Regions from separate parts of the Homo sapiens genome. Here all the other regions are reported to be linked to region 4. The links are microRNA targets in miRTarBase. Many come from high-throughput screens and were not tested one by one. Region 4 holds a microRNA gene; each other region holds the end of a gene's coding sequence.
The links. Region 4 holds the annotated microRNA hsa-miR-664b-3p (UUCAUUUGCCUCCCAGCCUACA, at 1,646-1,667, opposite strand). A microRNA usually pairs through its seed, bases 2 to 8, with sites in the 3' UTR of a target mRNA and lowers its output. Matches are read on the target gene's strand: a 7mer-m8 pairs with bases 2 to 8, a 7mer-A1 pairs with bases 2 to 7 and ends in A, and an 8mer does both.

Region 1 (3,090 bases), not on the chromosome of region 4:
TTGAGGTCCTGTGAAGCTCCGTGGGAATTTAGGTGTATTGAGTCAGTGGCATTTCACTGTGGCTGTCTCCCCAAGCCAGGTTCCATTTGGAGGATCCTAACATGTGGTCTTTGCCTAAATTCCAACTCTGGAATTGTGTTTCACACCTGCTGTTTTGCTCCCTCCAGGATTCAGACTATGAAGAGACATATTGATGAAAGTCTGTATGACACAAGAAGAGTCACCTAAAGACAGGAAACATCCCATTCCACTGGCAGCTAAAGCCTGTCAGAGAAAGTGGAGCTGGCCTGGACCATAGCGATGGACAATCCTGGAGATCATCAGTAAAGACTTTAGGAACCACTTATTTATTGAATAAATGTTCTTGTTGTATTTATAAACTGTTCAGGAACTCTCATAAGAGACTCATGACTTCCCCTTTCAATGAATTATGCTGTAATTGAATGAAGAAATTCTTTTCCTGAGCAAAAAGATACTTTTTGATTCATCTTTGCTCTGGAATGTATTACATGTTTTCTTCCAACTGTTTGAAGGAGAATTTTGAATGTTTGCCACACCGCTGATACCCAAATAATTTTTTAAATGAAGTGGAGCTTGTGGCTTCCTGATGTGTCACCAGACAAAATATTCGCTTGGGATATGTATTCTTTGTTTTTTGCTCCATGTACACTTTCAGCTGTGAGTTAGTATAGGGCGTATACTTACCGGTTTAATGACCTCAACCTCAGTTGTGTTTGGATAACTTAGGGTGTATACCCTTAGTTTCCTTAGAGTTGGTAGGATCAAGTCATTGGTTTGCTTTGACTGGGTTTTTAAAGTATTAAGTACAGTGTCATCAATTTACAGTTAAGGAAAGGAATCGTGAAGTAGAAAAATTATTTTCTTTAGTCTTGCTGGTACAATTTGGGCTAAGGAGTCTTTGTTATTTTCTGTCTTGCTTTTTTTTTTTTTTTTTTTTTTTTGAGGCAGAGTCTCACTCTGTCGCCAGGCTGGAGTGCAGTGGTGTGATCTTGGCTCACTGCAACCTCTGCCTCCTGGGTTCAAGCGATTCTTGTGCCTCAGCCTCTCGAGTAGCTGGGATTACAGGCATGCGCCACCACACCCAGCTAATTTTTGTGTTTTTAGTAGAGACGGGGTTTCACCATTTTGGCCAGGATGGTCTCAATCCCCTGACCTCGTGATCCACCTGCCTCGGCCTCCCAAAGTGTTGGGATTACAGGCATGAGCCACTGTGCTTGGCCTGTTATTTTATTTTCTTATAACTACAACTTTTCTTCTTGAATTTTCAGGTCAGAGGCAAGAAAAACTCTTTACAGGTTTTTAGTGGGGGGCTTATGGAGTATTTCAGGAGTTCTTTGCAAATTAAATCATCTTTTCACTTGTATTGTTTTTCAAAACTTTGTTGATTTCTAAAATGTGCCAACTGTGAGTAAACTATGGTATTTGCAAGTGGTTTTTACATAATATTTGAGATGAGGAAGTGAGATTGTGCATGACATACTTCTCCTTTGTATTCTCTCAGTGCCTTACAGCAGGTTACTCCATTCTGCTATGACAACTTGTTTCAAATGTTAATTTACATAGGATTTTTTATAAGCCATTAAGGCATATGTATAGTATATCAGTAAAGATGGATGGTGCATATATAAATAGTCTTCTGTAATAGTGATTGGATTTACTTCTCAATTATGAGAGACAAAAATTATCCCCTCACCTGTCTCTATTCTTTCAACAGGTTGATCCCTTTTCATGATTTTTCATTAGGTGGTTCAGGAAGTTTCCATATTACAGCGCTTCAGACTGTATATGTTAGTTTAAAAATCACTTTTCTCTCTCTCAACTTCTTTCTTTTTTTTTTGAAGACTTAATTTAAAAAATTTGGGTTGTTAGATCCGTATCATAGATTTGGCCTAGCCTCTTCTGTTAACCTAGTCCACAGATGAGCGAATCTGGTTAGTTGAAGGACATTGTGATTTGACTCTGGTCACGCGAGGAAGTAGAAGGGCAAAGACAGGACCGGCAGTTTACATTTCCAGTGGTTAAACCTCACGGTACTTTGGGACTGCTTGTTAACTTTTGTGGTTGTCTGAGGCCAATCTAACGTGACCATTTCTGACACCTCAACAGAGAGAGGAAAGCAACTTGAGCAATGAGAGTAAATAACTTGGGCTCTCAGAGATTTGAAGATAGAGATCTCATTGTGAGGGGGACTATTTTGCAGGTCCTCATTTCTCCAAGAAAGAGATGGTGTTACAGGAACCCACTGAAAGCCATATCCCATTAAATGAGGAACTAATTTTGGCTGGGCCTTCTTGTAATGTCCTCGCAGGTGTGTTGTGAAGATTAATGCAGGGTAGTATGTTTGTAGATTGACACCTAGTCTAAACTTGAGGTAATTGGTGCTCTGTGAATACTCAGTCGTGTTCTTTTATAGCCTTAATCATGATTTGAACTAGTCCCTTGCTTTTTAAATGACTGAATGAAGTCCTTCGTGGTAAGGGAGTACGTTGATAACTTAGTTTACTATATGGGTTTGTGGTCGCATCCCAGTCATCAGCTGCTATCATTTTCCTTCTTCATCCCTTATACTGAGATTTGGGTTACAGCTTTTTATTCTTCGAAGGATCACAAAGCAGTGTACAGACACCTGCCTTCTTTAAGGATGAAAGGAAGATAAAGTGGTCTTTTTTTGTTTACTTATTTGTTTCACCTCTTGTTTGAGTAACTTCTAAGGTGCTATTCTCTCTCTCTTTTTGCTACCTCATGAGCTCTTGTCACAGCCATGGAAACCAGCCTCGTTTAGAAAGGGAACTTAGTTCAGAAGGGGTTAAAAGCCTTCCAGAATTTTTCTTTAGCTGCTGAAGTTTTTACATGTGGTTACATGACTTTAAGTTTTATGCATTACGCTCTTAATTCTATTACAAAATGTGGACTCACCAATTGCTTTGTGTTTTCCATGTGACCTGTTACTTCAGGCTACTTGGGGAACATCTTAGTCCTCTGTAGCTCCTGAACCCAGCACTGGTGCTTCAAGAGAGAAGGTAGCACGTCTTTGTTCAAAACAAAACAAAACGACACTTCTGGAGGCCA
Region 2 (3,080 bases), not on the chromosome of region 4:
AGACGCAAGTCAGGGTGGTGCTTCCTCAGTGCCCCCTCACGGCGAGTCCCCCGTAGGGATAGGGATGTAGTGCAATCACAGTGACTTGTTTGTAGTTCTGAAAAGCACTTGCCCATGTCTTGTTGAGTTACTGCTGTGATTTGCACTTAATAGGGGAACCTGAGCCAGAGATGCGAAGGGGCTTGAACAAGGTCAGACGTGTATTAGTGGAGGTCGAATGGTGCTCAGCCTGGTGCTCTTTCTTCTTCCTGTCACTCTGTTCTTCATATACAAAATGCTCCCCTCTCTGCTGAGGTAGGGAGGGGGATCATGGCAGGGCCAGTCCTTCTAGTCTTTGCTTCTTGGCAAGGATGCAGATCATTACAACATCTGCTTTGCAGGGATTCTTCTGGACAAGGATGTGGTCATAGAGGTCACAGGCTGAGAATCAATGGAGACACGTGGTGCTCATCTGCTTATGAGGAAGATGCCACTTTCTTGCTTGGTCCACTGATGGGTGAGAATTCTGGCCTATTTAATGATCTCACTCCAGCTTTTTGTTTTTGTTTTGTAGCCATAAGAGTGTTTGAGAACTTTACTAACCTAGGTAAGATCATAATTGTCCTGTAATGCTGCACACCAGCAGACACTCTCTTAACTGATGACAATCTCCAGGAAGCCTATGTGCCTCAGAATTCCATCGCATCATCACTGGAACTCCCGGCACACACTAAGACACCTCCAAAAGGGTGCTCCCAACACACATCTCTAAAACACACCCAAAACAACACTCCACACTTGGGTTTACTGAAGTGTTTATTAAACGGGATCTGACATCTCTGCCATCACACTTTCTGGTTTGCTTCTTGCGATCTGGTCATCCAGCTCTGCTGACTGGGGCTTCGAGGACAGAACTACTCTGATGCAGAGGAACGTCAGAGGCTGGCCATGTCTGTGCCATGAGGGTGTCTGTGGCCATCACATTCCCCTTCCACAGTTGACAGGGGAAAGATGCCTGGCTTCTCTGCACTTAGGCTCTTTCTGTGCACAGGGGGCCTGCCTGAGACACCCGGCCCATCAGCCATGGGGCACGATCCTTGTCTACCACCTACCTATACCCATATCCCATATTGTTCACTATTCCCTGACTGTAGACAGTCAGGTCCTGAGGTCCTGCCTTGATGGCAGCTGAAGAAACAGCTCTGCAGCTCTCACCATCAAGGGCTTGCAGGAGTGTCTTGATTAGCCATTTGTCATTTGGTGAGACCTGGGCTACTGCAGGAAGAGCTCTGCTTATCTGCTTATCAGGAACACCTGCTGCATTTAGGCCCCAAACTGATACTAGCTTCTGGTTGGCCATTATTTTCATACCTTTGTAAAATATCCTGTAGGGAACATTGAAACGTGTGCAAGCACAAACACAAGTTTCTCATTAGACCATAGAGCATGCACTCTAAGGCTTGTTCTACAGAGCTTTGCGTTAGCCTCCACAGGGACTGAGAAGCCACAGGACTCTTCCTCCTGACTGCTCCCTCACTGCAGTTGCCATGAAGAATGGTGTGTGTGCTCTTCCTGGCAACAGCCTCATGGACCCGACAACAATTTTTAGAAGTAAAGCCTATATTGCAAATCCTTTACAGATTTACAAAGGAATATCTGATTCAGATGTCTTTGTTCCTTCTGGGTTAACTGTCACTTCCGTGGCCCCATGGCAGAGAACTTGCCTGCCTGCCCACTTCCTCCTATCCTCCCATTTTCCCTCCTCTTCTTCCCCCCTCACTTCCTTTCATTTTGAAGACATTTATATTTATCACCTATTCTGCTACCAAGTGCCTAAACACGGCACTGACACTTCTCTGTGCTGTGCCACCCCTGGGCAGCCTCTGTGGTCCTGCCCACAGCAGACATTGCCTTCTGGGCCCTGGCATTCACTGCGTTCAGTTTGCATCATCAACCTGGAATCTTGGAAAGGCCATGTGGTAAGGAGGCTGGAAGTCCCCAGCCATGTTTCTGGAATGAGCTTTGCTCATCTGGCCTGGCTTTCCCACAGTGAGCACAGAGCGGCATTGTTTTCCTGAGCAGCTCAGCCCCAGCCCTAGAGCATGCAGAGAATGTGGCCCACGGCCCGGCTGCTCCCACCAGAGGCCTGCAGCCTCCCCTCCCGACCCTGAGCAGTCTTGGTTGGTCAAGACCCACAGCCACCTTCTCTGCCTTAGAGATGCTTAAGTTACTGACACTTCCCTGGGCCTGCAGAGATGGGTGGACCATAGGTTCCTCACTGAGTGTTGTGCCCTGGGTTGGGAGTAAGAAAAGCCCAGAGGCTTTTGCTGGGCAGACATCCTCTGTCCCTTCTGGGCTGAGTCAATGGCACCTGCAGCCTCGTGCGCAGTGGCAGTGATGGTCTTGTTGGGGAAGCATAAGGGTTTCCCCACCTGTGGCCAGGAGGAAGGAGCTTGTGCTGGCTTGAGGTGGCGTGAGCCTTGTTTGTGCCTCCCTCGAGGCCTCTCCAGAAATGCTGGCCAGTCACACCTCCTGATGGCCTCAGGGGCCCAGCCAGTGTGGGGGTGTCTGGTTACCCCTTGAAAAGCTGACCAGAGAAGACCCTGAAACTCCAGGGAGGGCCATTGAGCTAGGTAGACCCCTCACTGAGCGTCCTCCAGGCTGGAGCAAGCGCTCAGAACAGGCCGGTGGCTGTAAGAGATGACAGGAAGAGTGGGGCCTGGGGAGGGGGAATGATGGGTGTCGTGTCAGAGGTGGTCTCCTCTGGCTCACTGTCCCCATCATCCAGACCTTCGGCGAGGGAGGGGACTATGCGGACCAAGTTGTCTTCAAAGTGCACCTGCTTCTTCTTGGCCAGGGAGTCGGCTGGCTCCAGGCTCAGCTCCATCAGGGTGTTGGGGGGCTGGAGGGCACTGGGCTTCTTAGTCCCCTTCAGGATACTCTTCATGTGGATGAAAAGGGAGCTGGGCCCCTCCTTGAGGGCCCCATGGAAAGTGTAGGTTTGCTCTGTGTCCCCAGAGCCGGTGGTGCTCACAGCGCTGCTAGAGGGGTCTGTGTACTGCTCTGGGGAGGCCAGCACCTCGGGGGCAGCTTTCCTCTTC
Region 3 (3,090 bases), not on the chromosome of region 4:
ATTATAATACAATTTTCATAATGTATGTTCTTTGGTTGTACATGAGGAGTACAGGGAAAAGATATATTTGACTCTAAAGATGCGTATCAGAAATAAAAATTACCCATCCACTGTTTGTTGTTAAGATGCCAAAGCTGGTGATTTCCCTAACAGACAATGAAGAGAAACAAAATTGCTCAAAGCAGCAGTATTGTAACAAATAAAAACTTCTCTAGAGACCCAGCACATATAATCAACACTTAAAGCATTCTGAAAAAGAAATAAGGCCTTGGAAAATGTTTCACTCTCCTCCATTACTTGGTTAAATAAATGGTGTCCTGGCCTGATGTTGCGGTTGTACATACCCTTTCACTAGTGTTTGAGTGGCACAAGCCACATTTACCATGAGAAAGAAGAGATTTATTCATAAAAATGAATTTAGGCTGAATGGCTTATTATTGGAGGTAAGGGATTTCAAATCTCTGTTCGTCACTGTCCACTGACAAGAAAAATCACCCTGAATGGTTTTACATCCAATTTTTTAAAAGTCCATTGCTGGTACAATTCAAATGCCTCATTCAGAAAATTAAATCTTTTAAAATACTAAACTAATAAGAAATGTAAGCCTGAATGTTTCAGCAAGTAATAAAATGCACTGACACATCTGCTACCCCTCAAGAGGCAAAATTAAAGAGAGGGCAGAAGACACCAGAAAAATTTTAGTCACATCCGATGAAGAAAATGACATGAGAACCTCAGAAGGAAAGGAAAAATAACCAATCAGGGATATAGCTGCACGCAAGATGGACTTAATGAATGAACACGTGTTCCCCATGTATACCTTTTGTACAAATATCAATGGAGACGACTGACTTGTTGAGGTGATGACGCGCTATGATACCAGGGAGTGTAGGTTTCATGGTGCAGTGTAAAGGTGCAGTGGATTCCAGGGCAAACCAGTCAAATGTGCTAACATTTTCCACTCACAGTAAAGTATTCTCCCATAGTCCCTTCCTGCTAAATTATACAGCTCCTTTTATCTAATGTATATAAGTCATGTAAAAACCTAAACCTGCTCATTTTTTCTTTGGTAGAGAAATTAAAAAACACTTTTTGGGAAAGAAAAAAGTAGACAAGAATTCTGCTGGCCAAAACCAAACATTTCTCAAGGCTGTTAAAACAAGAAAACAACTTAAGAATATCGGTCTCTTAGTAAGCAAAAGCACCAGAAATCCTTCTCTACAAAGAAAAAACATCTGATTTTACAGATAGGTTCCCAAACTACTAACTTCTAAGGCACCAGAGTTGACATCAATACAACCCAATTTACAGGACTAAAGAGCATAGGTAGAAGTCTGAAAGTTTTAATCATTCTGTGTAACACTTTGTCTAACGCTCAGCGATGCTCTAGGTGAGCAGTGGGTGAGGGCAGAGAATGAGGCGTGTGTGCTCCTTCTCATGGGTGAGCATCCACGTATACTGCTCACAGGCTTTGGGACGTACTTGTGTACTGCCCACTTTTACACAAGCTGCAGCAGAACTCAGTTCTACTGCAGGTGAGAGTATTGCACCATCATTAACATAATAAGGACCTCAGAATCCAACCTTGCCAAAGAATTCAACTCCTAGGCTCAGATTAATGGAAGTGCTGGGCACATGCCACCTCCTGCCATTGTCACAGTTCAGCTGTGCTGGCCCCGACACAGCTCCAGTTCCACCCATGACATCTGGCTGAGGAGGCTTATGGGAGCGGCTTCTCATGCACAGTTACTGTCCCTCTCTGGAGGGTCCTTTAATGGGGACTGTGCAAAGCAGTGACACTAACTGCCAGTACACTCACTTTTCTGAGGTGAAAATAAAAAGGTTTATTCAAGGATAAATGAACTCTGGTTAAATTACTACTTCATTTTCATTACTACTTCATATATTAGATTTCAGAGTGTGTGAGATGGACAGTGTATTCTGGAAATTTTAATTTAACACCCATCCACAAATACTTATTTCAAGGAAGGCTAATCATCTTCATTAAATTGTTCACTTTTTCGTGTAGACTTTTTCTCTCCATGTTACTAAAACAGGGAGATCCACGAGGCACATTTTTTTAACCTCGCAAAACTCTTAATTCTAACTTAATTACTAAACTCTGCCTTCAACCAAATTTTCAATATCTTTTTGTAAAATACTTTAAAAATCACTCAGACATTAACAAAACACAAAAACAACTCTTCTCTAATCCTGACCTGTCCTTAAACTAATCTAATTACGGCTGACTCGTAACTGACAAAAACATTCAAATTTCTCTAACACACTCAAACAACAGAAAACCCAGCATATTTTAGGTGGCAGTTAGCCGTTACAAGAAGTTTTATTAACATATTCTCTAATAATCACAAACCTATACAGCTATGTTCAGTATTTTCAAGGAGAGTGACTTCTTACAAAACGTTTATAGCCAATCATGGGATTTTGCTAGAAAACGATGGCATATGCAATGACAGATTTGACAGTTTAATCAGAAAAATGGAATGATAGAAATGAAGCAGACTCCCCACCTACTGTGCTAACTGGGTATGCAACAGTTTAATGAAATACCATAAGCCTTAGTTGGAGACTGTGATGGAACAGCGTAGAGGCCATCCGTTTCCAGGCCATTCTGAGATCCAAGATGCCAACTCCTTGTTTCTATGAAACTTCACGAGATGTGCCAGTCAGAAATGGCATGCTGAACATTCTGCAGAGCTGCAGCACTGGCCTGGGCAGCCAGGGCTACCACACTGGTGACAGTGCTGCTGGTACCTGTGATGGCTCTTCTGGTATCCATATCTTATACACAACACCTATCCGTAGGAAGAACTTCCGCAGAACTGCTCGGAGCTCAGGGATCAGGTCAAACTGCATAATTTCACACAAGTAGGGGTAGTACATTGAAGCATGTGCTTTGAACTTGAGGTGGGAGAGAAACAGATAAAATTAGACAATTTTTTTTTTTTTTGGGCACCAGTTTTTCAGAAGTGTTAATCTCACCCTGGAACTTATTACAATATTGGTGCTTTTCTTGCTATTAGAAAGTTGGGGCCGAGCGCAGTGATTCACGCCTATAATCCCAGCACT
Region 4 (3,090 bases):
AGACAGGGTTTCACCATATTGCCCAGGCTGGTCTCAAACTCCTGAGCTCAAGCAATTTGCCTGGCCCGGCCTCCCAAAGTGCTGGGATTATGGGTGTGAGCCACCGCACGTGGTCCATATTTTCATTTGAAACATAAAAATAGCCTTGGCATTCCTTAATTACTCCTCTCTCCTCCTTATGAGGAGAAAGAACAGATTTACTGGAGATCCAGGCAATAACAGGCTCTTAAAGAACTTGAAAACAAGATTACTGAGCCCTGTTGAACCAATCACACAAAAGTCTTGGTGCAGAATTTATAGGTCAGTGGGTACAAGTTAAGGCTACCTCTCCAGAGGTTCAATGGTACCCAATGCACCCATCTGCCTCATACCATCTCCACTCACCTAGACCTCTTTTGATCACATTCTCCCCTCCCTTTACATTCACCCAGAAGCCAATGGTTTGATAAGGAGAGGACATCACATTTATGTTGTCCACTGTTTTGTGACTGAGTTTTTTCAACTATTATGGTGCCATCTTTCAGTATTTATTACAGCCTATACACATACAAAAAATGTGAACATCTATACAAGATTTGAATATAAATAATTACCAACTACAAACATTTTAAATATCCAGAAATTTTTATCCCTCAAGTTAGAGAAAAAGACAATGTTTTAATTTATAAAAGGCCAACTCTCTGATCATCATAAAAACACAGCTCACAGCCTTGATCTCCTGGGCTCAAGCTGGTCTCAAACTCCTTCCTGGACTCAAGTGATCCTCTTGCCTCAGCCTGCCAAAGTGCTAGGATTATAGGCATCAGCCACTGTGCCTGGCCTAATGTGCCTTATTTTTAAGTATGCCTACCATTAAACTTTTACTTTAAATTAATATACTTGGTTTGGACTTGAAAAAAATAAAATAAAACCCAAGGAAAACAATAAAAAGAGCAAGCCTCATCTTTGGAGTACGTTCTTTCCAAATATAAACTCCTAACCCGGAACTTACTGCACTGTCTTTCATAACCAGCCGTTTATGAGATGTCAACAGCTTTTCCAAAGGGTAAACAACTCGCCGCAGGTAACTCTCATCCTTGTGGTTATCATACAGCCACTGAGCATCAAGCACATCATGCATTGTCACCATGTGGTCCTGAAAAGCAGCCATGTATGAAAATAATTCAGTTTATTTGTATCTCAGCCCATCAGACCCCAAACTTCCTAAAACTGAATGTCACTTGTTTACTAGTCCAAGCTCATTATGTCTTCAGCCTCTTCAGTCCTGGCTCTTCCAGGCATCTTTTTTTTTTTTTTTTTTTTTTTTTTGAGACGGAGTCTCGCTCTGTCGCCCAGGTGGGACTGCGGACTGCAGTGGCGCAATCTCGGCTCACTGCAAGCTCCGCTTCCCGGGTTCACGCCATTCTCCTGCCTCAGCCTCCCGAGTAGCTGGGACTACAGGCGCCCGCCACCGCGCCCGGCTAATTTTTTTTGTATTTTTAGTAGAGACGGGGTTTCACCTTGTTAGCCAGGATGGTCTCGATCTCCTGACCTCATGATCCACCCGCCTCGGCCTCCCAAAGTGCTGGGATTACAGGCGTGAGCCACCGCGCCCTCTTCCAGGCATCTTTAACCGTTGAAGTATTAGACCCCAAGCAGGCATTTTTGTAGGCTGGGAGGCAAATGAATAGAATAATACTTTCTACCCAATCATCTCCCTTAGCCCATTTTAATGTCCCAAAGTTTAATTAACAGAACAGGGAAGCTGCCCTGGACTGAACTCAACACTTTGGAAAGCATCTTTCCCACGACATGAAGCAAGTGGAGTGCCATCAAAGGCTGGCAGATGGTAAGAACCAGCTCTAAAACTTCTAGCCCCGTAACACATACCTTTTCACTCATGACTCCAGAACGAACCCTCCGAAGCTCCTGCATCTGACCACCAACTCCCAATAACAAACCAAGGTGCACACATAATGTCCGAATGTAGGTGCCAGCCTCACAACTCACCCAAAAGATTCCTAAGATACACACACACAAAAGAAAAGCAGCACCTACTGTAAATACATCACTGGTTGAGAAATGCAGTTATCCTTCATCTGAGCCACCAAGACTAGAGGTGACAGACACACTTCTTAAAATATAAGCATTTGCTGTAAAGATCTGTAATTCTGGCCAGGCACGGTGGCTCACGCCTGTAATTCCAGCACTTTGGGAGGCAGAGGCGGGTGGATCACGACGTCAGGAGATCAAGACCATCCTGGCTAACATGGTGAAACCCCGTCTCTACTAAATGTACAAAAAATTAGCCGGGCATGATGGCGGGCGCCTATAGTCCCAGCTACTTGGGAGGCTGAGGCAGGAAAATGGTGTGAACCCGGGAGACAGAGTTTGCAGTGAGCCGAGATCATGCCACCGCACTCCAGCCTGGGCGACAGAGCGAGACTCCGTCTCAAAAAAAAAAAAAAAAAAAAAAAAAGATCTGTAATTCTGATATTAGCAGAATTTTTAACACTTAAGTTGCAGGTATATTCAGCATGGTATGTTTCATGGATGGGAGGAAAATTGGCATTGTCTTAAATTTACTTCTGACAACAGAAACTTCTAAGCAGTCAAAATTGCAACAAATAAAAAACACATGCAAAACATACTTTGGTGAAAACACTTACCTTTGAACAAAGCACCGAACTACACAAATGCAGAATGAAAACATTTCAACTCCAGCAGAAGCAGTCATCATAAAAGGTGTAAAAGCCATCTCACTTTACTAGGCACTGTTCACTTTTTCAACAAAAGATAACAAAAACTATCGCCCACAGACAATATCCCAGCTGTAGGGCAGGTTTTAGAAAGTCTTCAACTTCAAGGGCATCTACTTTTAATAAGAGAACAGAATCCTGAAGAATGTGTTCATACCCACTCACAGGCCTAATGACTCACCTAATCTTCTTTCAGGATCGTATTCAATCATTTTGCTCTCGTAGATGGTCCTCACTCGGAGCTGCCTCTTTACTGCAGCAATAAGTGGGGGTCGCTGGAATAAGGCACCTGTCAGAGTTTCTAGGGCCTAAGAACAAACACAAATGAAAACAAACACCTCATCAGAATGTA

Region 1: the mRNA of MPZL3 is a reported target of hsa-miR-664b-3p. Seed matches in the 3' UTR shown: 7mer-A1 at 581-587.
Region 2: the mRNA of TMEM72 is a reported target of hsa-miR-664b-3p. Seed matches in the 3' UTR shown: 7mer-A1 at 1,765-1,771 and 7mer-m8 at 1,233-1,239.
Region 3: the mRNA of ARFGEF2 is a reported target of hsa-miR-664b-3p. Seed matches in the 3' UTR shown: 7mer-A1 at 1,882-1,888.

What each region holds. Positions count from the first base shown.
Region 1 is chr11:118,226,998-118,230,087 of GRCh38, reverse strand. MPZL3 (myelin protein zero like 3) reads left to right here. Exons shown (of 6, transcript NM_198275.3): 6 at 168-3,090. The coding sequence ends at 194. Among named protein-coding and RNA genes, the nearest start is that of JAML, 3.5 kb to the right of the region's middle.
Region 2 is chr10:44,934,708-44,937,787 of GRCh38, reverse strand. It overlaps TMEM72 (transmembrane protein 72), which reads right to left. Exons shown (of 5, transcript NM_001123376.3): 5 at 778-3,080. The coding sequence ends at 2,654. The region is part of intron 1 of TMEM72-AS1 (TMEM72 antisense RNA 1); the gene reads left to right. Among named protein-coding and RNA genes, the nearest start is that of TMEM72-AS1, 23 kb to the left of the region's middle. RefSeq lists an enhancer at 1,913-2,207.
Region 3 is chr20:49,032,855-49,035,944 of GRCh38, reverse strand. ARFGEF2 (ARF guanine nucleotide exchange factor 2) reads right to left here. Exons shown (of 39, transcript NM_006420.3): 39 at 1-2,922. The coding sequence ends at 2,746. Among named protein-coding and RNA genes, the nearest start is that of CSE1L-DT, 12 kb to the left of the region's middle.
Region 4 is chrX:154,767,212-154,770,301 of GRCh38, reverse strand. It overlaps MIR664B (microRNA 664b), which reads right to left and starts at 1,706; the gene lies at 1,646-1,706. It overlaps DKC1 (dyskerin pseudouridine synthase 1), which reads right to left. Exons shown (of 15, transcript NM_001363.5): 7 at 2,920-3,046; 8 at 1,870-2,000; 9 at 992-1,135. SNORA36A (small nucleolar RNA, H/ACA box 36A) reads right to left here and starts at 1,774; the gene lies at 1,643-1,774.